Linked DNA regions of Homo sapiens. The protein of the gene in region 7 purifies or fractionates together with the protein of the main gene of each other region. This does not show direct contact. Each region holds a gene or a part of one and is shown on either strand. Other genes may lie near its edges. The genes, in order: CLSTN3, TMEM131L, AGPAT2, CLCN3, PTPRU, ADGRG1 and PCDHB7.

Region 1 (3,573 bases), on a different chromosome or scaffold from region 7:
CGAAAGGGGAGGAAGGGAGCTGCTGCAAGGCAAAGGAACAAACACAGAGGGAGGCAGGTGTACAGAGAGGCAAGGGCAGAGGAGGAAAAAGACTCCCTGCCCAACACTGTCATGAACAGCCCTATTCGCAGAGGACAGAGGGCAAGGACTGGAATCTGCCCCTGTCATTCCACCTGTGCCTTCCCCAGAGACCACTCAGCCTAGGAAAGAGGTGCCAGTGCCCAGTGAGGGAGAGGAGGGGCCCCCACACGGGCTTGGCTGAGCAGGAGGAGATGCAGGCTCCAGGCCTGGGCTGGCTGCAGGAAGAGGGCACTAGCACCTGAGGCTGGGGACAAGTCCAAGGGGCACAGAGCAGCCCCTTCCCTTACCCACCTGGACTGAGCTCACTCCGTGACACCTCCCTTCTCCTGGTGGGCTTGGGGCTCCGGGACGTCTGGGGTTCCTGCTTCCCCAACATCTCCCCCTGAGGCATACCTGCCTCCCCCGTGGCTCTCCCATGCTTCTGGCCCTGCAGCCCCACTTTGATGCCCAGGCTCAGAGGGGCATGGACCTTCAAGGGCACTGAGACACAGAACGGTGCGTTCACTCTCACACGGACCTTAGAGCTGATGGCGGCAAAGCAGATGTGCATGCACAGGTACATGCTCAGGAAGACCGTGTGGGCACACAGCTGCACAAAGGTTGCCACGCCCCACACCCGAGCCAGGCCTTTGCCAGCCTGCATGCTGGCCCACACCAGCCACCTGGCCGCCTGCTCACACTGCGGGAGTAAAGGAACGCGTCTGGGGGTCTCCAGCAAGGCACGGTAGAGCCATATGTGCAGCATCACCCAGCTCCCCACCAGCTGGGCAGACCAGGCAACCCCCTGAAGGAAGACATAGACACTACAGACGTGGGCCGTGAGGGCCACAGAGCGAGCCGCCATGAGCACAGCCCTGCCTGCCTCCTGCACACACACACACAGCTCTCGAAGAAGCACAAGGAAGAAAAGCAGGAAAGCCCGCAGCCCCAGGGACAGCAGGTGGAGGCAGAGACCCCACACACGCACCTCCAGGCCCAGGGCCCTTACGGGCAGCTGGGTCACTACTCCCCACATGGGTGCACACCCCTGCCCACCATGCATACACAGCAGCTCCTCCCTGGGCGGTCCCGTTGCTGAGGGACTATTCCATGTATGTGTGCCCCAAACACACACAGAGACCAGCAGTCACACAAGCAAGCCCCTAGAAAAATACACACATCGCATTCCAGCCCCGTCCGCAAATTACCTACAGCCTGAGACTCATGTGTCAACAGACAGAGCAGAGCGTAGGGAAGCGCATGGCCCAGGAGCTCCTCACACTCACACCCACACCCTGCTGCAGCGCCCCTCTCCCCAGCAGCCAGCACACTCAGCTGCCACGCACTCCAGGGCCAACTAGGTGTGTGGAGAATGCCCTGCCTGGGCAGGCCACACACCTCCCTGAGGCCACCCTGATGGCTGTCTGCCAAGTTGGTCCCCATCCTGACCCACAGCCCACTTGAGGCCACCAGCCAATTAGAACGGACTCTGCTGGGGCACACTCCCTCGACACTGGTTCCAAGGTGAAGACAGGACTGGCTGGATCAGTATTTCTCAACTTCCTGGGAACGGGGGATAAGGGAGGAGGGGACAGAGCTGTCTCTCCTGCCCATCTGCAGGAAATAGTGTCTCTCAGGTCTCCACGTCAACAGACCAGAGCCAGGGGCAGTGCCTTCACTGGCAGATGGGCCCAGTGGCTAAGCCCAGGCTCCAGAAGGGGTGGTGACCCCACCCTCAGAGTGGAGGCCAAAGCAGGTGAACTTCCTCTAAGCACACAACGATGACGAGCTAAAGCTGGTTTGCGCCCTAATCAATGCAGTGTCCCTCCGAGCTCCTGGCCTAATGAAGGAAATGACAAGTTGATTGCCAGGACAATAAGAAATGACCACAGGAAAGACAAAATGCAGACACTCTATCTACAAGCAAACAAGTCTGGTTAATTAGTTTAAGATGAGTCAGGAGCCCGGGGAGATGGGAGGATTTTTAAATCAGCTACAGATAAAAATCAAGAATTTAAGAAGTGCGTTCAGCTTTTCTTGCTACATGAGATCTGAGCAGTTAATTCTGGCCTTGAATGACCTCCAGAGCCAACATTAAGGGGTGACTTAGCAAATGGTCCATGGGATTGCGAGGACAGTGGAAAGCCCTGTCCATGGCCCCACACGGTGCTCTCTTTGCAAAGAGCCTTGGGAGAGATTTCTTTCTGCCCCCCGCACTCCCAGGGCTTTTCATGAAATAGCGTTTGGCTCCTATCACGGCTCTCAGAACTGCTCAGGTTTCCTTTTGCTTTAGCTTTGAAGAAGCTCAGGGTCAAAATTCTGGCCCGTGGTAGCAACTGCATAGCATCTCATAGTACGCATGTTATGAGCTGACTTTATTCCCTGGCTTCATTGGATCCTTATTTCATCATTACCTGTTCCTCCTTACTTCCTCATTCATTTTCTTTTTGTCCTATTGCTTTGTAACTCTTTCTGCAAAGCTTCAGATACTTGTAGGAAACAAAAGAGGAAAATTATTCCCAAACTTTTAAAGATTACATGGGATTTTTAAAAACCACTGACACGTGGCTCCCACCCCCTAGACATTCTAGGGTATAATTTAGGTGCCGAGAGTTTTTAAAGCTCCCCAGGTGATTCTGGCAGTCATCAAAATTTGATATGAGTAGATACATAATACCCTCATCATCCGGCTTGCTCTTCTCAACCAACCTTATTCTCTCTAACCATAAACACTCTTAACCACCTATCTACCCCCGGTTCTCAAATTCCCATTCTCTCTCACACCCATCCAAAAATCCCTTTTACAGTTCAGGTCCAAATGCAAACTCTACATGTGCCACAAAATCTCCCCTGACTGTTCCAGTTTACCCTGGTTCCAGTTCACATTCATCTCTCTTTCTCTAGTGCACTTAGGAGATTTAGAGCAATGGGCCTCCGTGCCACTGGAGGAGATCGTACCTCTCACTGCTTCTGCATGTTTAGAATGGTTTGATATTGTGAAACCACAGTTCTGCAACACCACTCGAGATTTGTAGGTGAAAGGGAGGGAGCACCTTGCGGAGTCAGAAAAGGCATATGGAAAGGGTTTTATGCCGTGAATGGCCTGTCAGCTCAGGCATGCCAATCACCAGTGCCCTCAGGGAAGCTACGAACTCTGTGTCCTATTCAGGTCAAAATAAGAGAAGAAGCAAAGGAAAACTGCTGCTCTCAACTGAAATCTGAGGGAAGCTTGATCAGCCTGGACATGAGCTCAGAACAAAGGATGGGGAGACTGGGCTTCACCGAGGGGAGGTGAAAGGGTGCCGTGAACAGACACTCCTCCAGGGGCTGAGGGGTGAGAAACGCTGCCCGCCAGACCAGCCCATGCAGGGCAGCTGGACACTCAGGGGAGAAGGTGCTGGGCTCCTAGAACAAGAAGTCTCTCACCTGGGGCCTTATACCAAAGAAAGTAAGGATCGAGAATCTCACCAGGCCAGGCAGCACCCCTATCTACCTTGAGCCTAATCAGAGTAG
Region 2 (4,462 bases), on a different chromosome or scaffold from region 7:
TTCAATACTGGGGGTCGGGGAGGGAAGTGTCTGCTTCACGCAGATCAGGATTCTAACCTGGCAACCTTGGGACTTTCTAGAGGCAGTGCATGCCTGGAGGCTCTCCGTGCAGGGCAGCCCCCCAAGCTTACAAGACACTTGTCTCAGGCCTCCACACAACCACAGCAAAGAGAAATAAATTCAAAGCAAGCAAACCCTGCATTCCACTCACAAATCACGCCTACTGAATTTCTAATATAAAGACAAAACAAAATGTAAAAATAACTTTTTATTAAAAGTTAAAAACATATTCAAAGTTTACACATGCAAATAGATAATTCCACCATAATATGAACTTCTAAGATCAATGACAAGCAGATACAAACCGGTCTGGAAAACATGCATCAGCCACCTAACCTCCCCTAAGTTCCTATACTCAGGGTTAGCCTGCTCACTGGGAGGGAAACCACACACTTACCAGAATGTTCCTGCTGCTGTCATTGCCCCCAAGGACTGGCCTGACAGAGGAACAGCCCTTGCCGTAAGTGGGATGGAGAGAACAGTTCTAGGGCTCTCTGCTTCATCCCAGCAACACACCAGGACTGGAAAGAACCCCCCGCTGCACCCCCAAGCAGAGTCCACCCAAGCAAACAACTTGTTAAGCTGGGCTTTCCAGCAGTTCTCAACGGCTGAGCAACTTCATTTTTTGAAAGCTCCCCAGATGGTTGTGATGCTCAGGAGGAGGAAAACCATAGCAGCCATTTCTTGCTCAACTCCTACCTTCTTAGAAGTCTCCCTTGTTCAGGAGTTCGAGACCAGCCTGACCAACAGGGTGAAACCTCGTCTCTACTGAAAATCTCTATTAACTGGACGTGGTGGCACACGTGCGCCTGTAATCCCAGCTACTCAGGAGGCTGAGGCAGGAGAATTGCTTGAACCCAGGAGGCAGAGGTTGCAGTGAGCCAAGATCGCACCACTGCACTCTAGCCTGGGCGACAGAGCGAGACTCTGTCTCAAAAAAAAAAAAAAAAAAAAAAAAAAGACGTCTCCCGTGTTCAGATTTAAAACATTCGGCATGCCTGACACACTTCTTGACTTTTGAAAGTTCTGACATATGGATGCTTTGTTTTTACCACTGATTTATGAAGAGTTAAAAAAAACAGAGCACCCAGATTTCATTAAAAAATTTATTTTCATATAAAAGTGCCAAAATATCCACCAATGTCATAATCTATCTCAATAACCAGTTTACACTAGTAATCAAAACACAAGCCTCTTTATTCACATTGTTTAAAAATCCAATTATTTTCACACATTCCCACAGTAACTCGAGTCTCTAGACAGTGGGAAATTTGCATTCCTATTCGCTGTGGTAGTCCATATGTCCAGGTTCATATAGGCGCGAAACGGGTTGAACCCCGGGTAGTATTCCTTGCACACGACCGCTTGGTTTTCCATGTGGGTCGAATGTTCCGTGGTGGGGTTGATGGGGCAGCAATTTTCATACACATCGCTTTGCGGGGCCCAGATGGAACCAAAAAGTCCAGACATTGGAGACAAGCTTCGGGTGCTTGTGAGGTAGGGCTGAAGTATAAATGAGGAAGGAAAAATAAGTTAAAAGAAAAAAAAAAGCCTTAGAAAGGTGAATACACATCAGCGAATACTACAATGCTATCAAGTTACTTGGAAGTTATTAGACTACTCTCAATTTAAATCTGGGTTGCTTTAACTCCATTTTTTCTCAAAGGGAGGATTGTGAAATCCTCATCTAATGGGATGAACTTATTTGCAACCCGGGGAAGAACCCACAGGCCAAATACCCTTTATCTGGAAAAAAACAAAAACAAGTGTCAAGCGGATGTGAAAGGAGAAGCCATCGGGCTTCTGAGCAGGGAGGGTGTGCTCACAGGCAGGGAGCTCTGGGACCCTGACCACCCACTGACCTTCCTGGGACTTTCATCTCGTATCGGTGAAGTAAAGATCAGTGAGTCCACATAAAGACAGCTGTGTCACACAGAGGGCTGGCCCATGTTCAATTTTATCTACAAAGGACCATTGCTTGGTGTGTTTGGGGATGTTTTTCATTTGGGGTGGCCAGAATGTCAATGTCTGCAAGACCCCACCCATCTAATTATTACATGTCAGTTTCCTTCAGAGGGTGGCCAGCCCTGGCTTCTGTGATCTAAAAGAAGCAAGCCAGGCTTTGGCTGGTCCAAACCCAACGCTAAAGCTAGCTGAGACCAGGATTAAGGAAGCAGTGGAAACAATTCAGAGCTGCCCAGGGGTTCACGGCACAGGATGGGCAACACTGACCGGAGAGCTGATGAAACTGGCATGTCCCCAGGCAGCAGGCATGTTGGGTGGGGTGTTCCAGGTAGACTGAGAGTTGTGATCAATAAAGTCTGTCTGAACATCTGCAGGACAGGGGAAGCCATTGGCATAGTTCATGTTTTCTACAAAGAATGGGAGAATATCATCATAGGTAAACATTTTCATTGAGAACTGAATTCTCACTCTCAGGCAAAAAAGCTTTCAAGGTCTCACTATACTGACAAGTTACAGACATAAATACTTGGTCCGTGTGGACCAGGAGAGTCGTTGCAACATCATTCTCAAGATTAAAACTTTTTATCAGACACACAACCTGGGAAGCCCTCAATGTGGAAGGTCTTCCTCCTGGCTTGTTTTTCTCTATTTGATCACTTGATGGGAATCTTTCTATTACACAAAATACATTAAAATACTACTAGATATCTAAATAGTGTCAAGGTTCTTGCCAGTCTTTAAAATGTTTTTATTACCTGTCATGCCAACCTCAGCGACCTACACATATATCATCTGGGCTGATACAGCAATCCAAAACCAAGGACTCCTTAGATACCATTAAGAACATAATGAACACAGACCCTCACAATCATAACATTCCCAAAGCACCCCCTTGTGGTTAGCATGGAGCAATGCATGTATCAAAATCTAGATAAGAATGATACATCCCTTCCCTGAAAGGGCAGCTCTAGTATAAGAAACCATGATCCAACAGTAGTGCACAATAGAGCATTTTCCAGTTGACCAGGGATATCCCATAGCTCTCATTTTTTTATTATTACAGATGCTTGAGCCCAAGCATCTGCAATTTTCCACAATTTCCCCTCCAAGCTTCTTTCCTTCCTTCTGCAGCACCACCCAAGGGCAGAGAAGTTAAGGACATAATAGGAAGCAGGCCAATGTTTCTATTTCACATGGGACTTGACTGCCTAAAAAGAAGAGCGAGCAGCTAAAGCCCCGGCTTCCCAATGGATACCCAACAATGTTACATCTACATGGATCCAAATGACCTAGTTCTACCTAACTGGAAGGACTAAATGGATTAGGGTTATTTTTGAAGCCCCCAGACACCCAAAATTGAGGGCTTTTTGAGGGTCATATAAAATTATATATGGCATCAGTGCACAACTGGATCCACATGAAGCCATTCGGCAGTCTACTGCAAGCTCATTCTCAAAGTCTGCTCGCTGTTAAAAGGATTCTTCTTAGTCCACACACTTCCTGCTTTGACCTTCTAAGAATAAAATAATGGCGTTGGGATTGTCTGAAGAGCCCTTACCTTCTGGAAAGGCATTGTAATCGTTCAATTCCAATGGACAGTATGCGCTGGAAAACTGGCCTTCGCATGTTGCACTCCAATCAATGAAACTGCCACAAAAAACAAGTGGTCTAATCAGAAACAGGATGTCAAGACATCAAGTAAAGAAAATGGAAAATGATTTTACTGCCTAGCATCCTAATCACTGTGAATTCCCCAATTTTGGAAAATAAAAGATGTACTTTCTCAAGTCACAGAATCAAAGGCTTACTAAATGCTGATCACTAGTGACATGCCATCTGCAGGATGGACGGCTGGACTAGGAGCACACTTGTTTTTAACTATGCTTGTTAAGTCTAACTAGAGACAGAATAGAGAGCCGTGGCTTTATCAGCACTGTGAAAGAACAGCTGGAATACCTTTAAGTGTCTTTGTGCACATCTGAAGGACTTAAACATGTTCCATTAAAAACGTCCACTCAGAGCAAGACCAGCATTCATCTTAGACAAGCATAACTATAAAGACTATACTTCATTATACTTTGATCCCTATTGCAACCTAGATTCTTATTATAGAAATGAGATAGGAAATACTGTTGTAATAAGCTGAACCAAGAAAACCATCAAATGGATTCTGTGATTAAATATCTAACATTTTCTTAAGACTCCCTAATAGAATGACATATTAATGTCAAATAGCAAATTTGAGAAACTGCCATTGTGTAACTATTTTTCAATATTCAAATTATTTGATCTTTTAAAACTTTAAATTTGGGCCAGGTGTATTGGCTCATGCCTATAATACCAACACTTCGGGAGGTCAAGGCAGGAGGATAGCTTGAGACCAAGAGTTCAAGAGCAGCCTAGGCAACAAAGCAAGATCCTGTCTCTACAAAAAAAA
Region 3 (4,536 bases), on a different chromosome or scaffold from region 7:
GGGACCCAGCCCCACACAGCCCCAGCTCAGCCGGCCCCACTCAAACCCCAGAAGCCACCCCCGAGGCCCGGCCTACCCATCATGTCCAGGATGCTCTGGTGGTTGGAGACGATGACACAGGGACGGGCCTCCTGCAGCCTGCGCGGGTCCCGCACCTCGAAGCGGAGCCCGTAAAAGTACTTGAAGCTTCGCACGAACCAGCCGATGATGCTGCAGGGGAGGCCACCATGAACACGGGTCCCACAGATCCCGCAGCCGAGGCTGGGGCGCGAAGGCCTGGGGGTGGGGTGTGGAGGAGGCTGGGGAGGGGCCCTCCTGGCACGGGGCAGGAGACCGGGAGACACAGGGGAGGGAGCCCCTGAAGCGGACAGAGTCCCGGGCCCGGCTCACCCACCTGGACGGCTGCCCTGCCTCCGTCTCCCCAGCAACAGAGGAAAACCCAGAGCCTCTGGAACTCGGATGCTAGGAGCATGGGAAGGCGCCCACTTCCAAATCCACATCCAGGGCCCACCCAGCCCTCATCCACCCCACAGGGGACCCAGCCGGAAAGGAACTGGCACTGGCTCTCACGTCCGCTATGAAGGACCCACGTCGGGGAGAGCAGCCTCTGCACCCCAGCAGAGGAAATGGGGCCCCACACACCCTGGGGAAGGTCACTGGCCCCTCAAGGCAGGGCCACATCAGGAAGAAAGTGTCGGCGCCAGTGGAGACCTCTGAAACGACCTCCGAAAGGTTCTTCCAGAAAAGAGCCGAGACCGAGACCCTCTCTCACCCCTACCCTACAGAATCAGGCCGGTTCCCTTTCCCCGTGAAGAGGCGGCGAGGGGCTCGGGGCTTGTCTGAGGTCACACCAGGAGCAGCAGCAGAGCCAGGGTCTGGGCCACCTGAGCCCTGGCCACAGCAGCCCCCACTCTGGCAGGGGCCCAGCCCACTGGGGGCTGCCCTTGGAGCACCTGCAAATGTGAGGTGGCCTTGTCCAAGCAGCCCGTCATGGTTGGGACCAGGGATGTCCAAGGGGTACCCGAAGACTCTGACCAGCTCCGAGCGTCCCAACCTCTGCCCTGCTGTGCTGCCAGGAAGCTCTGGGCACACCCCAGATAGGGCACCCCATCACAGGGCAGCCGGCGGGGATGGAGCCAGGAGGACGGAGCTCCACTCCGAAGCTCCAGCAGGGGTGGATGGCCGGGGCAAGGCTGTGCCAGCGCTGACTGGGGGGCTGCCAGTGCTGCTCCCCTCTCCATGCAGACTAGTGCCCCCCACCATTTGATCCCCCAGCAGTCCTAAGGGCCCCACACTTTCTACAGATGAGTCTGAGTAACTGCCCCAGGCCACAGAGCAGAGATTCAAAGCCGGGGCCTTCTCTCAAAGCCATACTGGTGGGGATTTTTGTTGTTTTAACAGGGTCTTGCTCTGTCACCCAGGCTCCCCTTGCTCTGTCTTGCTCTGTGACACAATGTGTCACATTGTGCAGTGTCACAATCTGGGCTCACTCCAGCCTCCACCTCCTGGGCTCCTCCCACCTCAGGCTCCTGACTAGCTGGGACCACAGACGTGAGCCACCACACCTCGCTAGTTTTTGTATTTTTGGTACAGATGGGCTTTCACCATCTCTGGCCAGGCTGGTCTCGAACTCCTAGGCTCAAACAACCTGCCGACCTCGGCCTCCCAAAGTGCTGGGCTTACAGGCCTGAGCCAACTCGCCCGGCCTTTAAAAAAAAATTGTGGTAAAATACACGTAACATAAAATGTATCTCCTTGGCCTTTTCCGGGTGCACAGTTCATGGGCGCTGGGCACATTCGGTGTCTAGCAGCCATCTCCTCCCTCTATCTCCAGAACTCTCCACCTTCTCTGGCTGACGTCTGTTCCCATGCGACACAAACCCCTGTCCCCTCCCCAGCCCTGGCACTCTGCCCTTCCATGTGTGAGCCCAGGCCTGCGGCAGCACCACCTCAGGCTGATGGGGCAATGCTCATGACCCCCTGTTGCAGATGGGGAAACTGAGTCAAGGGGGGCCTAATGGTTAATTCTGGTGATGAGTCCAGCCGTCCGTCCCTGGACTTGGAAGCCTGGGGCCTCCTCAGATCTGCCTTCCTCAGCCAACTCTAGATATCTCCTCTCCAGGCCGCGCCGGCCACCGTCCCCTCCCACCCAGAAGGCACACCCGGGCTGGTAGCACCCGCACACTCAGGGGAACTGCAGGGCTGTTTTGCCTCCACACTCATTTGCGCAATCCAGCTTCCCGGACCCCTGTGACGCTCCAAGAAGACGAGGAGGCAAAAGCCGGCAGTTCACCAACAGGAAACACAGAACTGTCTGGTGCTAGCAAGACGGCCGTGTCGCCAATCAAAGAAGCGCAAATGGAAACAAGAGACTGTCCTCATCCTTCCCCCTGGCACAGATTAAAACGCCTGATAACAGGAGGTGCCAGCCAGGGTGTTGGGAACAGGCCCAGCGGCTGGCAGGAGTGAGGAGTCGCACAGACAAGATACTTCTGTGGAGGGCAGGTTGGCAGGCCCGGCCAGAGCCCTGAGGAAACCTGGCCCCTCCCCTCTCAGAATCTTCCAGGAATTCGCCCGACGGCTGGAGTGAGAAGCCTGTGGTGCTGAAGTGTGCAGTGAATTAGGAAAACCTGAAAATGCTTAAATAGCCACCAGTAGAAAGAGGGAAAGTAAATTAGGGTCCATTTCACAGACAGCTGGGGCGCGGGGAAAGAACAGGACAGGTCCACACTCATCTCCTGTGAAGGACATGTGTATGATTTCTAGCAGCAGCCAAGACACACCTGCAATTCCAAAGCTAGCTGCCTGCAGGAGGCTCGGGCCACATCTGAAAGGGACATTGGTTCCCTCTGGTAGTGACATTGGCCAGTTCCATCTTTTATTTACTTTTTTATTTTTGAGACAGGGTCTCACTCTGTCACCCAGACTGGAGTGCAGTGGTGTGATCTCAGCTCACTGCAACCTCTGCCTCCCGGGTTCAAGCAATTCTCCTGCCTCAGCCTCCTGAGTAGCTGGGATTACAGGTGCCTGCCACCAGGCCTGGCTAGTTTTTGTATTTTTAGTAGAGACGGGGTTTCACCATGTTGGCCAGGCTGGTCTCGAACTCCTGACCTCAGGTGATCCTCCCACCTCGGCCTCCCAAAGTGCTGGGATTACAGGTGTGAGCCACCGCGCCCGGCCAGCTAGTTTCTTAGTGTTAACAACTGCATCTTGGTGATGTAAGATGTTAACAAGGGAGGAAACTGGTGAGGGCCACATGGGGTCCCCCGTAATATCTTTGCAACTTCTCTGTAAATCTGAAATTATTAAAAAATAAGATCTTCATTTATTTTTTATTTTTTTTGAGACGGAGTCTTGCTGTCACCTAGGCTGGAGTGCAGTGGCGAGATCTCAGCTCACTGCCATTTCCACCTCCCGGCAAGCGATTCTCCTGCCTCAGCCTAGCAAGTAGTTGGGACTACTGGTGTGCGCCACCACACCCGGCTAATTTTTGTATTTTTAGTAGAGACGGGGTTTCACCATGTCGGCCAGGCTGGTCTCAAACTCCTGACCTCATGATCCGCCCGCCTCGGCCTCCCAAAGTGCTGGGATGACAGGAAGGAGCCAGCGCGCCGAGCCCTCCTCTGTTTTGATTGTGGTATAACACGCACCACCTAAACAATATAATTGTACCCATTTCTCAGCACACGGTTCCGTGGCACTCGGCGCATTCACTGCCGTGTGGCCAGCACCACCCTCTAGCTCCAAAACTTTTCCTTTTTTTTTTTTTTTTAATCTAAGCTGCTTAGGGGTTGGATCGTGCACTGATACTTCTCTCAGCTGTGAAAGACACGGGGTACAAACCCCCGCCCAGCAGGCGGTGCTGAGCAGGCGCTGTGTCCCGCCGCCCACCACCGGCCCCTGGTCCTCAGGCCAGACAGATGGACGGACGGAGGCTGCCCCAGGCCAGCGGGAGGCTGTGGCTCTCTAGAACTCTGCAGCCCACAGTGTGGCTGGGGGAGAAAGGTATACCCTGGGGGTGGAAGAAAGTTGAAGTTGATGTCCTCAAGGGGACAAAGGGCCATCTGCACCAGCCACGTGAGGCCACCGCACTTCCCCCGCGGTGTCCCGTACATAGTTCAGAGCTTTCTGAAAGCTGGTGGGAAAGTCTAGACTCACTTTACAAGCGGTTCCTGGATGGGCGGGTGGCTCACGCCTGTAATCCCAGGACTTTGGGAGGCCAAGGCGGGCAGATCACCTGAGGTCAGGAGTTCAAGACCAGCCTGGCCACCATGGTGAAATCCCGTCTCTATTAACAATACAAAAATCAGCCAGACGTGGTGGCAGCTGCCTGTAATCCCAGCTACTCGGGAGGCTGAGGCGGGAGAATCACCCGAACCAGGGAGGAGGAGGTTGCGTTGAGCCGAGATGGTGCCATTGTACTCCAGCCTGGGTGACAGAGCAAGACTTCATCTCACACACACAAAAAAAGTGTTTCCTCAGAGAGGAAGGGACTGAACTAAGCCCTGCAGAGGCTCCTGCGGCCGAGGACACCCC
Region 4 (4,536 bases), on a different chromosome or scaffold from region 7:
TGGAAACGTGATAATATTACTTAGCTCTTAAGGACTGAGTAAATATATACAGAGTGCTTTAGAACAGTGCCTGGCACCAGTAAATACTTTATAAAAGTTTGGTGAATTAAAAGTAAATAAATATTTGTTTTAATCAAATTGTTGGCATTAAAATGTAGACTCTGCTTATTTGGGGAGGAAAGGGAGCAAATTTAGCTTCTTTTTTTTTTCCTCCACTAAGAGGAAAGCAAACATATTTATTTGAATGTCCTGATCCTGAATTTACAACCAAACTAACACCTAGGTATCTATAACTCATATACATGTTTTAATCCATTTCATACGTATCTAAGAAGCATTTAATTTAAAAATATCAACGCTCTCCCCTCTTGTCTACACAAAACTATGGGACCTTAATGCTTTCAACTAACCGTGAATTCTTGCCATTTATATATACACTAAGGTGACAGAATAACAACGTATTAAACATTAACTAATCACTACAGTATGAACATTAAAATTTAGGTAAACTTAATTTCTCAAACATCTAATAAATTACATTTTTTGAACTTAGAATAAGTAAAAGTCTTACCAAAAAATATAAAGGTACAACAGAAAGTAATGGAATTGAATTGAGGAGGCAAATGCTCTAGCTTCATCTTAGCCACTAACTTGCTACGCTACAGGATGGTTTTGAGTTTGTTTTGAACACACACAAATATATACCCACATAGTCGTAAGGGCAGTAATGTAAGTAGGTAAGACCACAGACTTTGAAGTCAAAGAAAAATGAATTTTAACCTACGTTCCACCACTTACTAGGTATGTAGTCTCGGGCAAGTTAGTTAGCTGTTTTCAGCCCTAGTTTACTAATCACTAAATGAGGATAACAGGGCCATATTACTAAATTACTGTGAAATTAAGTATTAAAATCCAAGTAAAGTATCTGCCACAGTACCAGATACACAGAAAGTAATCAATAATGCTAGCTATTTTTGTTATAAAGTACTGGAATCACAATTATTCAGAGATGAAACTACGACAATCTGAAGTATTCCACTTTTGGGATATCTACGTCCAATGCAAGGACAATATTTTAATGCGAACATTAAAATGTACTAGAATTATTTCAATTGAAGATTAAACAGTTTGATAAAATATTCTACTTTTTTGGTTACAGTACATTAAAAAACTCAACAAGATGAAAAGGTTCTGCCAGTATTTAATGAGATGTTTTTCAAAAAATCATATCTTAAAAACTCAAAGATCTCTGTACCATCTAGGGCTGTAGATTTAGATTTGGAAAATAGGAAGGGACTGGGCTCCCAAAGTCTAGAGCTAATATAAAGGATTCAGGAAAATGCCCAGAGCAATATGGAAACATCAGAGGAAATCCATAATATATATAAGGTTTCAAGGTCTTGTAGAAGATCTCAGGCTGGCCTAAAGAAATGGTAAAGGAAATTGCCTTAAACAATCAAATGAAAAGGATTTCCTGTAATCTCTTTAATGTGAATTTCTGATTTAAACTTCAAGAGCTTCTAAAGGCCCTCAGAACTTCCCCATAGCACTGGATAGCATTTTTCATATCACACACCACTTACACTGGCACCAGACACTGCCTCCAGGAGGAAAACATAGCTATTAAGATTTCCCAACCTCTTAATGTTGAAAGTAAGAGTGAAAAACAAAGCTAAGCTTAGAAAACACTTCAGAAGAGGAAAGATGTAAGGTAAAGTGATAACAGGAAGATCTTCGTGAAATGCAGCTGAAACCCAATGGACACCAGCTGTCTATCTAAAGCTTCTCTAAAATGTAAGACGAACTGAGCAGCACTGGGAATGGATTCTAGAAAGATGTTATAGATTATTCAGGAAAAACAGAAGCACAAATCTCAAAATTTTTTATCTGAATACAGAATTTATTATTTTTACACTAAGAAATTCTTTACTTAAATAAATACTATATAATATATATTTTTCAGTCAAATTAACTACAAAAGACACTTACCTCCCTTTTTTTAGCTTCGTTTGTGCTATACTTTGGAAAGAGGTAGGAAAAGATATTTCCGCAGCAACAGGCAACATGTACCAGGGGACCTTCTTTTCCTAAACTCAAACCTGATGCCACAGCCAGGACTAATGTGATGGTTTTAATCATTAAAGTCCATTTTCCCAAGTAACCTCTGATGATGAATCCACTTAAAATAGTTTTAATCTACAAGGCAAAGATTAAGGCAGCTTAATGTCCTTTAAGAAACATGAGAATGTAACGAATCCAAGTTATTTTCTTGTTTTATGCACAAAAACAACCTTGCAAATTTTAGCAGTCTACAGAAAAATTTACAGTTAATTTTTCGAAAACTTTGCCTATTATGCTACATATAATAAATTGATATTATAATCTAATTCTCTACCCAAGAAAGGAGAGAGGGCAACACTATCTCAGGAACAAAATCAAAATATCAGGCCATGTTAAAATGAATACAGACCTTAATTATAAGGATTATAATTACATAACCAAAAAAAGGGCAAATTTGAATATTTCTGTTGTAAAAATAAGCATAATATTTTAAATATATTTTGGACATTATGTTAGAAATAAGAATATTATGTTTTCTCTGAGTACTGTAATTATGTGCAATAGTTTTTTATGTATCAAGAATGAGTAACAACTGTTATATACTGCATGATATTGCTTTTTATGAAAGATATTCTTAATACAAACTTAAAGATCAATACAATTCCATTTTAAAAAGAAATGTATTAGGAAAAAGTTGGTAACTTATTTAACTACAGAAAAATAAAAGAGAAGAGATAAGTTCAAATCAAGTTCAATCAATCCTATGTATAACTCTACTTTATTGTGATGAAAAATAAAACCCAAAAGTTTGTACTGTTGACCCACTGTGATTAACTACTTTCTCAAAGCATAAAATGGCCAAATTCAAGAATAATTAACTTATCTAATCAAAAGGTAATTATAAAAAGTGAATGAATCAAAATCAGGGTCATAGCCACGTGTGGTGGCTCACACCTGTAATCCCAGCACTTTGGGAGGCTGAGGCGGGTGATCACTTGAGGTTAGGAGTTTGAGACCAGCCTGGCCAACATGGTGAAACCCCATCTCTACTAAAAAAAAAAAACAAACAAAAAAATGCAAAAATTAGCAGGGCATGGTGACAGGTGCCTGCAATCGCAACTCCTCAGGAGGCTGAGACACAAGAATTGCTTGAGCCTGGGACGCAGAGGTTGCAGTGAGCTGAGATTGCGCCACTGCACTCCAGTCTGGGCGACAGCACAAGACTCAGTCTCAAAAAAAAAAAATTCAGGGTCATAACAGCAAAGTAACAACTAACCCGTCAAAGAACATTAGGTCACAAGATACTTCTTCCAGGCTCTTGATGTTTAACTAAATAGTCTGAAAATTTGCCTAGTCATGTGTTAAATTAGTGGTGAGAGAAAAAAAAAATCAGCCTTCACAGTAAATGACCAAATGACTATGGGGAACAATATTTTTCAATGATGTCTACCATCAGCTTATACTTAAAAAAATTTTTTTTTCATATTATGAACAAACTATCCCCTCCCTCCAGAAAAGCCAACTTTTATTATCACTAAGGTCAAAAAGATAAGCATCATAATAATGTTTAATGACACTAAATATTACTTGGCTTACCTCTGGAATTCCAGAGCCACAGGCATATGGAGCAAATACCTTTACCAGGGAAACTGCAAGAAAGGCAAAACTCAAGGCCCAGAAGATGTACATTATGTAGTTCATGATATAAGAACCAGGACCCTAAAAAGAAAATAGTTCGAGAGTATGAATTTAATTTACATTGCACCTCTAATGCAAATGCTTGTCATAAGAAACTTCAGTAAACGGCCAGGCATGGTGGCTCACGCCTGTAATCCCAGCACTGGGGAGGTTGAGGCGGGTGGATCACCTGAGGTCAGGAGTTCGAGACTAGCTTGGCCAATGTGGTGAAACCCCGTTGCTATTAAAAATACAAAAATTAGCTGGGCATGGTGGCGCACGCCTGTAATACCAGCTACTCGGGAGGCTGAGGTAGAAGAATCGCTTAAACCCCAGAAGCGGAGGTTGCAGGGAGCCGAGATCGTGCCACTGCGCTCCAGCCTGGGCAACAGAGTGAGACTCCATCCCACCGGCCAAAAAAAAAAAAAAAAAAAGAAAGAAAAGAAACTTCAGTAAAATGTGTAAAAGTCTCCTGGTTTATTTCCACAATAATAAAAACTTTATATGAACAAAATATTTAAGTAGAGTCCAAAAATTAATGCCTACATATACCAAGGAACCCTGAGCACATTTAATCTTTTTCCTAATCCCTAAAGTCTTGTTACCAACACATCTCAGCTATACTTCAATCTCTGCCTACAAACCACTTTTTGGAAACAGTGGAAACAAATTGCATCACCACTCAGATTTCATTCTGCTGCAACTTTCCAGATCATTAAACTCAATTCAATTAAGCCAGGTGAGAAACAGCATACTACTCATCTTACCGCAAATGTATACCTTTTAGCTCTAAAGTTC
Region 5 (4,536 bases), on a different chromosome or scaffold from region 7:
AGAGGCCGAGGCAGGTGGATCATTTGAGGTCAGAGGTTTGAGACCAGCCTGGCCAACATGGTGAAACCTCGTCTCCAGTAAAAATACAAAAATTAGCTGGGTTTGGTGGCACATGCCTGTAATCCCAGCTACTCAGGAGGCGGAGGCAGGAGAATCACTTGAACCCAGGGGGCGGAGGTGGCAGTGAGCCCAGACCGCTCCATTGCACTCCAGCCTGGCCAACAGAGTGAGATTCCATCTTAAAAAAAAAAAAATAGATGCTGTGTGGAACCAGTGGATTCAACGCAAGGGCTCTGGGTCCCGCAATCCGGTAGAGTGCACACAACCCAACAGTGAACAGGTTCGTTGCAGGGTAGAGGCCCTGGGCAGTAATCCTGTGCAGTGCACGAATGCAATGTCAGATACTGTGCAGTGGTGCTGCCTTTGCAAACCTAAGCCAGTCCTGAAGCCCAAGAAAGTGGTCCCAAGCTGTACTATAGATATAGACTCCCTGAGTCATGTGCAACGTGGGGCAGTGAGGACACTCAATGCAAAGATGTTGTTCACGTAGGGCTGACAACAAAAACCTGGAAAAGGACGCCAGCCTACAGATACCATGGTGGTAGGAGCGTGAAAGGCCAGGACACCATAGGGGCAGCGTTTCAGCAGCAGTGGTGCAGTGCAAGGGCTGGGCCATGAGGCACATATCCAGTGCAGCAAAGCAGTGCACATGCACAGAAGTGCTATATGGGGCAAAGTGCACTGTTGGTACAATGCAACTGTGGAATGCAGAGGGGCCATGCCCAGAAACTCAGGAAAAGTTCACAGTCCTGATGCAATACTGACGTCCATGCAATAGTGCAGTGCAGTACAGAGATGCTGTGTGATGCCAAGATGCAATGTTGTGGTAGCATGCCATCTGTTGGCACGGTGCAGTGCTGCAATGCGAGGAGCTATGCCCAAACCCCAAAAGAGTCCATGTGCCCAATGCAATGTAGACTGCCTGGTGAGGCAATGGGGTGCAGAATATAAATGCTCTATGACACAAACATGCAATGTGGCCACAGAAAACCATGTGTTGATCTCAGACAGTGGTGCAGTGTGAGCAGCTCCGCCCAGAAACCCAGGAGAATTCACCTTCCCAATGCAACACTGACATCCAGCAGAGTGACACAGTATACAAGAGAGCAGCAAAGACACACACATGGCAGGACCATGGCAGGATCATGGCAGGATGGAGGCACGGTCCAATGGGACAATGCAGAGGCAGAGCATGCAGAAACTCAGGAGAACGCACACCCTCAATGCAATGCAGCAATCCCAGTGAAGTAGAGGGCTGAGACACAGGGCTGTGCAAGGAGGCTGGACCCAGGAATCCCAGACAGTGCACATCCAGAGCAGTCCAGAGCCTGGCACGCTGCAACAGTGTTGCTGGGAGGGTCATGATGCCTCCCTGTGATGCACTGGAGGAGAGGGGAGCTCAGATCCCTGGAAAACTCTCTACCTACAGCTCTGCCCGGCCACGCTGGCTCACCCCACAAGTTGGGGGCCGAAATCTCATCTGGCTTGTCTCCCTCCCTCCAACATCTTCCACCCCAGTGACTCTCCAAGGGCAAAGGCTGAAGCCACTGCCACCCACAGGATAGGCCATCTAGAATCGAGCACATTGTCCAGGTATTATAACTGAGCAGAATCCCAGCATGCTGGCAGGAAAACAATGAATTCAAATTCTGCTGGTAAAGCTCTCAGACAATTAAAGTACAGCCCCTGGCCCCCAGCCCAGGGCAGGACAGAGGAGAGATAGAGAGAAAGACCTATTATTGGATAAGGCCCTGGGACAGGGTGAGCAGGAAGTAGGATGAACAAGAGGTTAGGATGTCAGAGAAGAGCCAGACTCAATCAACCTGGCTAGGCACTCCCCAACCACCACCCCCGTCCCCACCACTATTACTCCCTCCCAGGCCTGGACTTCATCAGAAACCAAGAACAAACTTTTCTGGGCACACAGGATGACCGCACGCATGCAAATACACACATCATAACAGTGATCACTTACACAGTGCTTACTATGTGCAGGACCTGTTCTAACCTACATAATCATAACCATAAAACATATCCTCATGACAAACGCATGCAGTGTGTCCTATTATTATCCCCATTCCACAAATGAGAACTCTAAGGGCCCAGAGAGGTCAGTAACTTACCAAAGTATCACACAGCTAGAAGTGGTGGGCTTAGGATTAGAACCCAGATGGTCTGGGCCCTGAACCCATGCTCTTAACCACCACACGCTAGACAAACACATATTGACAGGCATGCCCAGCCACAAGTCCACATGCACGCTCCTGTAAACACACATACATACACATTCTAAGCAATGTATTTCCCACTCTCAGCTGAGACTCACCTGTCCTATCCACTAGGTTTCTGATAGCTCCCAGTTGTCACCTCTTATCTCCACCTCTTATCTTATCACCCACATCTCCTTGTTCTATCATCCACCTGTCCCCCAACCCTCAGTTGTTCCCCCAATACCGCCTGTCCCTTCACTGTCAGCTGTCCCATCCCCCAGGTATATCTTTCCCACCAGCTATCTTCTATCCGCCAGTGGTCCCCCAGGCCTCAGCTGTCACCCACCACAGTGGACATCTGACAGTGTGCTGCGGTTTTCCGTCTCCTTTTTCCACTAGTCTGGGAGCCCCCGGGGGCTGAGCTGTCACCCCACCCCTAGCTTTAATCTTGCCCTGTCAAATATCCTCAGCATCTCCCCTTCCTAACAGCCCCATCTCAATCTTTCTCCCCAGCTTCTGCCCTCAAACTCCCAAGCCTCAGCGGCCCTCCAAGCCCCCTTTCTCCTTGTCCCTTCTGAGTCATCACAAGGTCTTGTGGTTTGCATCTTGGGAATCTGCCCAAGACCTCCTGCGTCATCTGGAAGCAGCATCTTCTGAGCTGTCCCCCTCAGGGGTCCTCCCACAGTCATTCTGCAGGAAATGGCAGCCCCCAACCCAGAGCCAGAGGAGGAGGCATAGCCAGCCCACCCATGACTGTGCTGCAGAACCCCAGCTCCTGCATTCACCCCTCCAAGCCTTCCCTGTGCACCCAGAGGCATCGAGATGCAGCCACTTAGTGGGCATCTCCCACGTATAGGCCCTGGGGACCACAGATGACAAAGACACAGCTCAGCCCCTGGGGGCTCCCAGCCTAGTGGAAAAAGGAGATGGAAAACCGCAGCACATTGTCAGACGTCCACTATGGGAGAAATTTCACCAACTGCACCGGGAGAGGGCTGGGAAGGCTTCGCTGCATCAGTGACAATGGAGCTGAACTGTGAAGGCTGAACAAGTAGGTAGATCCCCCACCCCCACCACGAGGTGAGAAGTAGGGAGGGGCACAGTGTGTGCAAAGGTAGAGAGGTGTGAACTGGCATGGCAGGCTCCTGGATCAGCAATTTGCCTGGTGATTTGGAGCAGACAGCGGATAGGCAGGAGTGGGATCAGGGAAGAAAGGCATCATGTGAAGCTGCTTCAGAAAGAAAGGGCTGGTCATGCAGGGCCTCATGTGCTATGCTAGGGTTTGGGTTTTGTCCCCTGAGTTCTGGGGAGCCTTCAGCTTGGGACAAAGGAGTGGCAGCATCCTATGTCTGCCTTAGAAGCTTATTCCAGCCACAGGGTGGTGGAAGCATTAGAAACCAAAAGCCTGGGCCGGGCCCGGGGGCTCATGCCTCTAATCCCAGTACTTTGGGAGGCCGAGTCAGGCAGGTCATGAGGTCAGGAGATGGAGACCATCCTGGCTAACACAGTGAAACCCCGTCTTTATTAAAAATACAAAAAATTAGCCGAGCGTGGTGGCACGCGCCTGTAGTCCCAGCTACTTGGGAGGCTGAGGCTGAAGAATTGCTTGAACCCAGGAGGCAGAGGTTGCAGTGAGCCAAGATGGTGCCCCTGCACTCCAGCCTGGGTGACAGAGTGAGACTCCATCTCAAAAAAAAAAAAAGAAACCGAGAGCGTGATGGCAGGCAGAGTAGAGGCCAAGAAGGCTACCAGGCTACTGCAATAGTCCAGGCAAGATCTAATAAGGCTGCAGAGAAGGGGCCTGGATTGAACAAAACCTTTTGTCAAGAGCCACTGAGTCATGGTCCATCCAGACCAATTCCCCTCCCAGAGATGCCCAGGACTCACTGAAGGTGCTGCAGGCCGCCTCATGCCTCTAGACCAGTGCTGTCTGCAGAACTTTCTGAGAGGATGGAAATGTTCTCTGCCTGCATTAACCAGTACAATGAGAGCCACTAGCAACATATGACTCTTGAGGACTTGAAATCTGACTAGTGCAACTGAGGGATTGAATTTTTATTTTAATTAATTTAAATGTAATACCCATACATGACTCAGGAGCCACCGTATTGGAGAATGCAGGTAGAGGACAATTTCCATCACCACAGAAGGTTCTATTAGATAACACAGCTCTAGGCTGACCGTTGAAAAACAGAACTATCGGGGCCCCTTCCAAGGCTTCTGGCTTTGGAGTCTGAAGAGCGATCAGGAGGCAAGTCCCAGGGAA
Region 6 (4,255 bases), on a different chromosome or scaffold from region 7:
AGGAGAGACCAGGCCTCCAGCTGGGTTGGGACAGATGTGGGGACAGTACCCTAGGCAGCATGGCGGCGCACTTCTGAGTCCCGTGGGAGCTGAGTGAGAGCCGAGTAGTCCCCAAGGCCAATTCAAAAGCCCAGCCCGGGAGTCCGTCCACCATGGCAACGGCCCATCTCTCCATGGTCGTTGGGCTTTCCAAAGTCTGCGGCTGACTGGCCTGGGGCTGGGCCGGGCTCGGGGGCCACAGGCAGTGTGCGACGAGGCCGAATCTCTGCTTCATCACATGGGCAGGTGGGCTGGAGGCCTAGATGCGGCTGGACGAGGTGCTGCCCGAGCTGATGGGGAGCCTGGCGCTGTCTGAGTTGCTCTTCAGAGGGGAGGGGCCACCCCGGGCCTGCAGCCGCATGGACCAGTACCAGATGAAGATGAGGAAGCCTGCGGGCAGTGAGGGCACGGGGTCAGCAGGTGGGGGAGCCCCACCCCATCCCTCCTCCTCCCTCCCCAGCCATTGTGACTCGGGTCTGCCCCACCTCTCCATAGTGTTTGCCAAGCACGTGCTGTCGGGCACCCATGAGACCCAGCGAGCACCTCCTATGAGCCGGGCACTGTGCTGCGTCCCCGTGTGGCCTCTCACTGTCACAAACTTCCTAGGCCCATCCTATTCATTACTATTCTCTTTTGTAAACAAGGAAACTGAGGCCCAGGAGGCTCAGGTAAAGGGACGTGGCTGAGCCAGGGCTCAAACTGTGGTGAACAGGCTCTGAAGTCCACCCACTTAAGCACTGTGAGATTTTGCACCCCTCAAATTAATAGCACTATGATGTATCCACAGCTTAGTAAATGTCTGTGTGAATGTATGGGCCTCACTTACAATCCTGAGTCCCCTCATCTCACAGGCAGGAATGAAGGCTTGAATGTTAAATAACCGAAATGTGGTAACATCTCCCCACCACCAACTCCCAGCTCCCATTCTAGGGTGACCCTGTATGGGAGGCTGGCCTTGAACCCCATGAGAGCCCCTGGGCCTGGCCATACAACCCCCTTCCATTCTGCACGGCCAGGAACAGAGGGGTGTGCATGCCTGTGTGTGCACCTCAATGTACACACACAGGTACATGCACAGAAAGGGACCCTGTTGGCATCAAGCCAGAGCCATCATGACCCTGCCCTGGGATCCCACCTCTCCGCCCCGACCCGCCGCCATCTGGCCACGCTCTCCCTCACTGTCCTTCCTACACACAACCGGTTCCAACCTCAGGATCTTTGTTCTTGCCTCTCCCTCTGCCTGGAGCTTCCTTCCCCTAGACCAGGGCTCCTGATCCTATCATGTGCACGTGACCCCTTGGGCATTTGTGAAAATGCAGATTCTGATGTGGCAGGGCCCGGGTGGCCCAGAGGCTGCGTTTCCAAAAAGCTCCTAACAACGCTGCTGCTGCTGGTCTGTGGACCGCGCCTGGAGTAGGGAGGCCCCCCCATCTCTCCATGGGGGGATCCTTCTCTTGTCTTCACACGTCTCATATCCAGAGAGGCCTCCCTGGCCACCCTTCTTAGGGTGTCCCCCACCCCAGCCGAGGCCCTGTGCAGCACGTGCTCACGACGATGTCCCTACTATCTGGGACCACCTTTGATGGCTATATGCTTGCCTGCTCATGCGCAGTCTTCCCCAGTAGAGCTGAGTTCCAAAAGAACAAGGCCCACACCCAACCAGCTCAGCCATAAGCCCTGTGGCTTAACACAGGGCCTGCACATAGTAGGTGCTCAATCAAGACTTGTTGACTGTGGCCTGGATGTCCCCATTTTATGAATGGGATGACTGAGGCCCAGAGAAGGGAAGTCTTCAGGTTCCCTGGGTGATCTCTTCCCTGCCCTTGCTCCATGTGTAGACACCCTGCCTGGGCCAAGGGACGGGTCTTCTCCTTACCTTGGAAGGAGGTGATGATGCTGAAAAGGTAGAGGACGACAAGCTGGAAGGTGCCAGAAGCAAAGGAGAAGAAGATCAAGGCCCAGGGCAGGCCAAGGACCAGGCTGAGGCCCAGCAGTGTCAGCACATGTGACCACTTTTGGGTGTGGGGGCGCAGCCGCAGGATCTGCACCACCATGGTGGCTAGCATGGCCATGTTGAACAGAAACACCAGGCTGAAGAGGCCCAGGTTGGTGATGTAGCTGACCAGGGAGTCCCGGATCCAGCACCTGCGGGCAAAGGCAGGAGGGCTCAGCGTGTGGCCAGCACGGGCAGCATTTCCTGGGCTGTGGTTGTCATGTTTGTTTTCAGGATTATCCACTGTTTACAGCAAGTGCGCTTGTTTTCTATTTACAGTGTTGATGTAATTTTAAAAATACATTTGAGTTAACAAGTCAGATTGTTTAAAGGAAAATGTTAAGTAAGTAATAATATAGATAGTACAAAAGTGAGGCAGAAATCACTGGGTCACAACATAAAGAGCTGAAAATTTCAAAACCACTGAGCCAATGGGAAGGATTCCTTCCCAGGCTGGAGCTCAGGAACCCTGGCTTCCGGTTTGGGTTCAGGGGATCCACAGGCAGGGCCGCTGCCAGCCTGGGTGAATCAGGTGAGTGGAGAAGGACTGGACTTCAACCCCACTCATCCTCTGCCTCCGAACAGCACACCAGCCCTCAGTGTGGCCAAGAGCGGATCTCTTCCCTCCCTGAGCCTCTGTCTTCCCATCTGCATGGGGAGACAGAGAGGTGCTGCTGAGGAATGTGGTGAGGCTCATCTGCTCCAACCCATACCCCCATTCATGCATGAGGAAACCGAGGCTCAGAGAAGGGCCGGGGCCTGTGCAAGGTCACCTGGTGAGTGAGTGGTAGATCCAGGCCTTTTCTCACCCTCCATGACTCTTAGACCAGTGCTTCAGCCACTGCCAGGCCAATTCCTCGAGGAGACTGGAACCCAGGTGTCCCCTGGCCAGCATGACCTGGGCCCGGGCTGCACTCTGGCCTCTGTGCCCAGAGACCCACCTTCTTGCCCCCATTGCACACAGCCACTCACATGGAAGGGTAGATGACGCCCTCTGGAGTCCTATGCACAGCCAAGATGATGGGGCCATAGTTGTCCACATCCACCAGGGCCACCAGCGTCACCAGAAAGATGGGGAAGCCTGAGGGTGGCAATGCATGTTGCTCTACTTCCCGCTCTCTGAGGCCTGCCCATTCCCTGCTGGCCTCAGGGAGTCTGGAGGGCAAGGGCCCCTCTGAAGTTTGGGCTCCTGAAGCCCACCCAGCCCCATCTGGTGGGGAAGTTCCCCCAAGTTTGGACCCTCCCCCTCCCCATTCCAGTATGGGTTTCCTATAAGGGGATGCCATCTCCTCCAACCTTAGCCCTGCCCTTCGTCACCCTGGGGGCCCCTGGGAGAAAGGCCTGTGGGTCTCTGCTGCAGGGCTGGATGTCACAGGGGAGATGGGAGGGGCAGACAGTTTAGGAGGGACGGCAAGAGTTCTGCCATCAGGGGACGTCTGCACTGGGCCTTGACCTCGCCCGTTCGGTGGAGATTAGAAGCTCCCTAGAGGGGGCTGCCCACCTCCAAACACAAAGTCCTGACACAGAGACACCTCCAAAGGAATTTCATGCAAATGGGGGAATGGACAAAGAAGGGGCCCAATGACAAACCCGCGAAGAGCAGCAAGCTGGAGTCAGGGGCATGCGGAGGTTGAGGGGTCTGTGCAATGTCCAAACAGACTTGTGGCATCATGAGCCCCTGGGCTGTAGGTCTGACATAAGAGGGCTGGCCACAGGTGAATTGAACAGTCATTGGCCAAGAACAAAATGCCAAGCCACAGGGAATCTGTTACCCAAGGTCCAGGGGGATCCTGAGGCAGGGCCACTGCCAGCCCGAGTGAATTAAATGACTGGAGCGGGACTGGATTTCAGCCCCTCTGATCTCTGAACTGGGTGCCTTTGAGCAGTGCACAACCTGCACATTCACACACGGTGGCCCTGCTCGTAAATCCCCTTTGCAATGGAGTGAGTGATGTGGAGAATTTGGAAGTGTTTCTTGGGGACAGGGCTCACTGCTTCTTCCTAAAGGGGACCTTGATTCAGCCAAGGTGAAGGACACCTGAGGATGAGTGAAGGAGGCCAGGAGGGAAGTCAGAGAGATAGGTGGAGAGGCAGAACCAGGTGCCTGGGTTTTGCCAGAGCCAAGTGGGAGAGGCAGGTCTGAGGCACCCCCCGCCCAACCACTTACCCCAGCCCATGGCGCTCAGCTTGAGTAGGTAGCCAGGGACATAGGTGCCAAAGACC
Region 7 (5,073 bases):
TCCAGAATAAAAGGCAAAGAATTCCAAGAATGACAGCAAAGAAAAAAATCCAGAATGATAGCTGTGCAGTAGGCACAGAAAGCAACCACCCAATTTAAAGAAAAATTGAAGTCTCAGGAGGAATGGAAATGACTATGGGGAAAATTGCACTGACAGGCAATTGTATCTGTGGGATGAATAAGTGATAGGGATAAAAAAAATCAAGTAAATGAAAAGGCAAGATAATTATTAAAATCACAAAAAAATTGAAAAAGAAAACATAATTAATACACAATAATGTTCCCAATATATGGTAAGTAAAAGAAAATCTAAAATACCTAAAATGTAATCTAACATAATAAACAGTCAATTGATAATTTCTAAAATTAATTAATCAAAATATATCAGAAAACAGATTAGTGACTGAAGAGATAACTAAAAGAGTTTTAAAATGGCTACCTCTTAGAAGGGGAACTAAGAAAAGTGAGGAGGAAAAGGGCAGAACAAGCCTCTTAGTGCTATTTAATTTTGGACCAAGGTCATATATTATTTTGAAAAAAATGCATTTCAAAATATCAGTAAAGTAGAGCTCTTGCAAGTCTCACCAAGAATAAAAAGGAGTTAAAATGCTAAACATCACTAATAAAAATAGGGATACAATTAAAGGTAAATAACGCAATGAAAACAATTCCAAGAAATTTGCAAACTAGATAAAATGATTTTCAAAATAAAATGCAAGTTACTTAAAAATACAAAACCTGAACAGATTAATAACCAAAGGTAAAATGTAAATGGTAGTCACTGATCTACTGCAAGTGAAGTCACCAAACCCAACCAGTTTAAAAGACAAGCTGGAATTAAGCATGTAGAAACATATAATAATATAATTATTAAAACTATTGTATAAAATAGATAAAAAGCTCCCTAACACATTCTATGATGCCAGTATAATAGTTTAATACCAAGGCCATAAAAGGCAAACACGCACTAGGTAAACAACATTAACTAGAAAAATCCTAAAACCATGTTGACACATCATATCTATCTGTGCACTAAAACAATAATACATTATGGTTAAATGTCATTTATATCAATAACTCAGTAATTTAGAAACTAAAGAATAAATGTATTATTTCAACAGCTATCAAAAATCACTTCAAAATATGAAAGAATAAAAAGAAAACTTTATTGATTCAAAAAAGGAATATTTACCCCAAATTGAGATCAACCATCATAGTTGAAGATGAAATGCTAGAAGCACTTCCACAAATGCAAGATTGACCAACTTGCTACTACTAATTTTAAGAGTATTCATTGGACATTGGAGATTCTAGTCACTGAAATTATAGAGGAACAATAATTTCTTATGTAATACTTAAATCAGGTGAAGGATGAAGGTTGGGTTTGGGGGAGGCATAAAGTGTTCCAAGAAATATCACAGGTAAAGAGTTAAGACCTGGAAAGTGGAATAATTGTTTAATTCACAAGAAATTGGGAAAAGGGTCAATTATTCTGCCATATTCACATTATTATTGTTAAATACTTTACAAATAAATAAAATGTCCCCAACCAATATTTGTTGACTTCAAGGAGGAGGTTTCATTTTCTCATATATATTTTTACTATCCATTTTTAAAATAGGAGATTTTCTTAGGATTTCGGTGGGGAGTCAGAGTTTAGTTTCATGCTCCTAGATTTAAGAAGACTATAAATTAATTCTTCTACGAATCCAGATTATCACAGGGGAAAACGACATCAGCTATTACTTACTAGCATTACTGTGACCATTTGAGGATAAAGATGGAATGAAACAGCAAAGATACCGGGGACAAATCATTCTTGTTGCAGAATTCCTTCAATCCGCCATCTTTTTGTTCTAGTCTTGATAACGGGAATAACATCCACAAAACGCAAGGTGGCGCTGCTGGCTAAAAAGAGAGAGAGAAAAATAATTTCACAAAGAAAGGATGTTACAGATTCCAGAGCAAAGAGGCAATCTGAAGAGAAAAGCATAGGAAAGGAAACAGTGGTAATAGGAATTGGGGTAAAATGAGGATCCTTCCCCACAAACATTGCTATTATTCAGCTCATTTCAAAGGATTCCGCTGCTGCCATTTGTGAGAGCCGCTGGAGGCTGAGTGAAAGTCATTTTGAAAGACTGATCCAAAGAAGAATGGAGGCCAGAGTGGAGCGTGCTGTGCAGAAAAGGCAAGTCTTATTTCTTTGTGTATTTCTGGGAATGTCTTGGGCTGGCGCCGAACCGCTTCGGTATTTTGTGGCGGAGGAAACCGAGAGAGGCACCTTTCTTACCAACTTGGCAAAAGACCTAGGGTTAGGGGTAGGGGAACTGAGAGCCCGGGGAACTAGAATTGTTTCAGACCAGAACATGCAAATTTTACTGCTCAGTTCGCTTACTGGTGATCTACTTCTAAATGAGAAATTGGACCGAGAGGAACTGTGTGGCCCCAGAGAGCCCTGTGTGCTGCCTTTCCAGTTGTTATTGGAAAAACCTTTTCAGATTTTCCGTGCTGAACTATGGGTCAGAGACATCAATGATCACGCTCCAGTATTTCTAGACAGAGAGATTTCCTTGAAAATATTAGAAAGTACCACTCCAGGGGCGGCATTTCTCCTAGAGAGTGCACAGGATTCAGATGTTGGAACCAACAGCCTGAGTAACTACACCATCAGCCCCAATGCCTATTTCCATATTAATGTCCATGATAGCGGGGAGGGGAATATCTATCCCGAATTGGTGCTGAATCAAGTGCTGGATCGGGAAGAGATACCAGAGTTCAGTTTAACCCTCACCGCTTTAGACGGCGGCTCTCCTCCAAGATCAGGGACCGCCCTCGTGCGCATTCTGGTTCTAGACGTAAATGACAACGCCCCTGATTTTGTGCGGTCGCTCTACAAGGTGCAGGTGCCCGAAAATAGCCCCGTTGGTTCCATGGTTGTCTCCGTGTCAGCCAGAGATTTAGATACCGGAAGTAATGGGGAAATAGCCTATGCATTTTCTTACGCCACTGAAAGAATTCTCAAAACGTTTCAAATCAATCCAACATCTGGCAGTCTTCATCTTAAAGCGCAATTGGACTATGAGGCAATTCAAACTTACACATTAACTATTCAGGCCAAAGACGGCGGCGGGCTTTCTGGAAAATGCACTGTAGTGGTTGATGTAACAGATATAAACGATAATCGACCCGAGCTGCTCCTGTCTTCACTTACTAGCCCAATTGCAGAAAACTCACCCGAGACAGTCGTGGCTGTTTTTAGGATTAGAGACAGAGATTCCGGGAACAATGGAAAGACAGTGTGCTCCATCCAGGACGATGTCCCCTTCATCCTGAAGCCATCTGTCGAAAACTTCTATACTCTGGTAACAGAGAAACCTTTGGATCGAGAGAGGAACACTGAGTACAACATCACCATCACCGTCACCGACTTGGGGACACCCAGGCTGAAAACCGAGCACAACATAACCGTGCTGGTCTCCGACGTCAATGACAACGCTCCCGCCTTCACCCAAACCTCCTACACCCTGTTTGTCCGTGAGAACAACAGCCCCGCCCTGCCCATCGGCAGTGTCAGCGCCACAGACAGAGACTCGGGCACCAACGCCCAGGTCATCTACTCCCTGCTGCCGTCCCAGGACCCGCACCTGCCCCTCGCCTCCCTGGTCTCCATCAACGCGGACAACGGCCACCTGTTTGCCCTCAGGTCCCTGGACTACGAGGCCCTGCAGGCGTTCGAGTTCCGCGTGGGCGCCACAGACCGCGGCTCCCCCGCGCTGAGCAGCGAGGCGCTGGTGCGCGTGCTGGTGCTGGACGCCAACGACAACTCGCCCTTCGTGCTGTACCCGCTGCAGAACAGCTCCGCGCCCTGCACCGAGCCGTTGCCCCGGGCGGCCGAGCCGGGCTACCTGGTGACCAAGGTGGTGGCGGTGGACGGCGACTCGGGCCAGAACGCCTGGCTGTCGTACCAGCTGCTCAAGGCCACGGAGCCCGGGCTATTCGGCGTGTGGGCGCACAATGGCGAGGTGCGTACCGCCAGGCTGCTGAGCGAGCGCGACGCAGCCAAGCAGAGGCTGGTGGTGCTGGTCAAGGACAATGGCGAGCCTCCGCGCTCGGCCACCGCCACGCTGCACGTGCTCCTGGTGGACGGCTTCTCCCAGCCCTACCTGCGGCTCCCGGAGGCGGCCCCGGACCAGGCCAACTCGCTCACCGTCTACCTGGTGGTGGCGTTGGCCTCGGTGTCTTCGCTCTTCCTCCTCTCGGTGCTCCTGTTCGTGGCGGTGCGGCTGTGCAGGAGGAGCAGGGCGGCCCCGGTGGGTCGCTGCTCGGTGCCTGAGGGCCCCTTTCCACGACATCTGGTGGACTTGAGCGGCACCGGGACCCTATCCCAGAGCTACCAGTATGAGGTGTGCCTGACTGGAGGCTCCGGGACAAATGAGTTCAAGTTTCTGAAACCAATTATCCCCAACCTGCTACCCCAGAGCACAGGCAGGGAAGTGGAAGAAAATCGCCCATTTCAGAATAATTTGGGTTTCTGATAAAGAATGTAAACTAAATCCGCGTCTGTGAATACGTTTCTGATTAGGAACTTATTGCGAGGTTCCCTTAAGGGAGTGTCTTTACATCATTTCAAATATGTACTCTTGAAGTCAAGCAATAAATTTCTATACATAAAATAGGATCCTGATTTAGTATCAAGAACCCTTCACAAAGCATGAAATGTATATGTGTAATGTTTTATGTCAAACAATTATGCTTAATATACAGTCTATTAAATGTAAGTCTTGTTTGAGATATTTTAAATTGCTTTCCATTGTTTTCAATCTCTACTGAGACTTCCTGAGTTGATTAGAAAGCTGTATGAGTGTACCTACCCTAGTCTCAGAAGCATAGACTGTAGAGTATCTTTTTAAGCATTTTTAAAAAATGCTTTTAATGCATCATACACTATTTTAACACTTTTAATCTGAGAAGAAGCATATGAGGCATGGTATTTTAGGAATGAACAAATAGATGGTCTTAGAGATTCAGTAAGTTCACTAAGTTCCACTAACTAATAAGTGACAAAACTGAGCAT

The links.
Region 1: the proteins of PCDHB7 (region 7) and CLSTN3 purify together in Homo sapiens (affinity purification with mass spectrometry; one large-scale study listed by BioGRID and IntAct). This does not show direct contact.
Region 2: the proteins of PCDHB7 (region 7) and TMEM131L purify together in Homo sapiens (affinity purification with mass spectrometry; one large-scale study listed by BioGRID and IntAct). This does not show direct contact.
Region 3: the proteins of PCDHB7 (region 7) and AGPAT2 purify together in Homo sapiens (affinity purification with mass spectrometry; one large-scale study listed by BioGRID and IntAct). This does not show direct contact.
Region 4: the proteins of PCDHB7 (region 7) and CLCN3 purify together in Homo sapiens (affinity purification with mass spectrometry; one large-scale study listed by BioGRID and IntAct). This does not show direct contact.
Region 5: the proteins of PCDHB7 (region 7) and PTPRU purify together in Homo sapiens (affinity purification with mass spectrometry; one large-scale study listed by BioGRID and IntAct). This does not show direct contact.
Region 6: the proteins of PCDHB7 (region 7) and ADGRG1 purify together in Homo sapiens (affinity purification with mass spectrometry; one large-scale study listed by BioGRID and IntAct). This does not show direct contact.

Annotation. Positions count from the first base shown.
Region 1 is NC_000012.12:7,153,729-7,157,301, reverse strand, and holds part of CLSTN3 (calsyntenin-3 precursor), read right to left. Parts: intron 1-3,573. UniProt on the Homo sapiens protein: Postsynaptic adhesion molecule that binds to presynaptic neurexins to mediate both excitatory and inhibitory synapse formation.
Region 2 is NC_000004.12:153,633,402-153,637,863, reverse strand, and holds the end of TMEM131L (transmembrane protein 131-like isoform 1 precursor), read right to left. Parts: intron 3,673-4,462; coding exon 3,584-3,672; intron 2,433-3,583; coding exon 2,293-2,432; intron 1,564-2,292; coding exon 1,288-1,563; 3' UTR 1,153-1,287; downstream 1-1,152.
Region 3 is NC_000009.12:136,677,347-136,681,882, forward strand, and holds part of AGPAT2 (1-acyl-sn-glycerol-3-phosphate acyltransferase beta), read right to left. Parts: intron 211-4,536; coding exon 77-210; intron 1-76. UniProt on the Homo sapiens protein: Converts 1-acyl-sn-glycerol-3-phosphate (lysophosphatidic acid or LPA) into 1,2-diacyl-sn-glycerol-3-phosphate (phosphatidic acid or PA) by incorporating an acyl moiety at the sn-2 position of the glycerol backbone.
Region 4 is NC_000004.12:169,689,774-169,694,309, reverse strand, and holds part of CLCN3 (H(+)/Cl(-) exchange transporter 3), read right to left. Parts: intron 3,781-4,536; coding exon 3,658-3,780; intron 2,197-3,657; coding exon 1,990-2,196; intron 1-1,989.
Region 5 is NC_000001.11:29,242,339-29,246,874, reverse strand, and holds part of PTPRU (receptor-type tyrosine-protein phosphatase U isoform 1 precursor), read right to left. Parts: intron 1-4,536.
Region 6 is NC_000016.10:57,659,626-57,663,880, reverse strand, and holds part of ADGRG1 (adhesion G-protein coupled receptor G1 isoform b precursor), read right to left. Parts: coding exon 4,200-4,255; intron 3,114-4,199; coding exon 3,005-3,113; intron 2,185-3,004; coding exon 1,916-2,184; intron 430-1,915; coding exon 299-429; 3' UTR 1-298. UniProt on the Homo sapiens protein: Adhesion G-protein coupled receptor (aGPCR) for steroid hormone 17alpha-hydroxypregnenolone (17-OH), which is involved in cell adhesion and cell-cell interactions.
Region 7 is NC_000005.10:141,170,684-141,175,756, forward strand, and holds the start of PCDHB7 (protocadherin beta-7 precursor), read left to right. Parts: upstream 1-1,960; 5' UTR 1,961-2,152; coding exon 2,153-4,534; 3' UTR 4,535-5,073. UniProt on the Homo sapiens protein: Potential calcium-dependent cell-adhesion protein. May be involved in the establishment and maintenance of specific neuronal connections in the brain.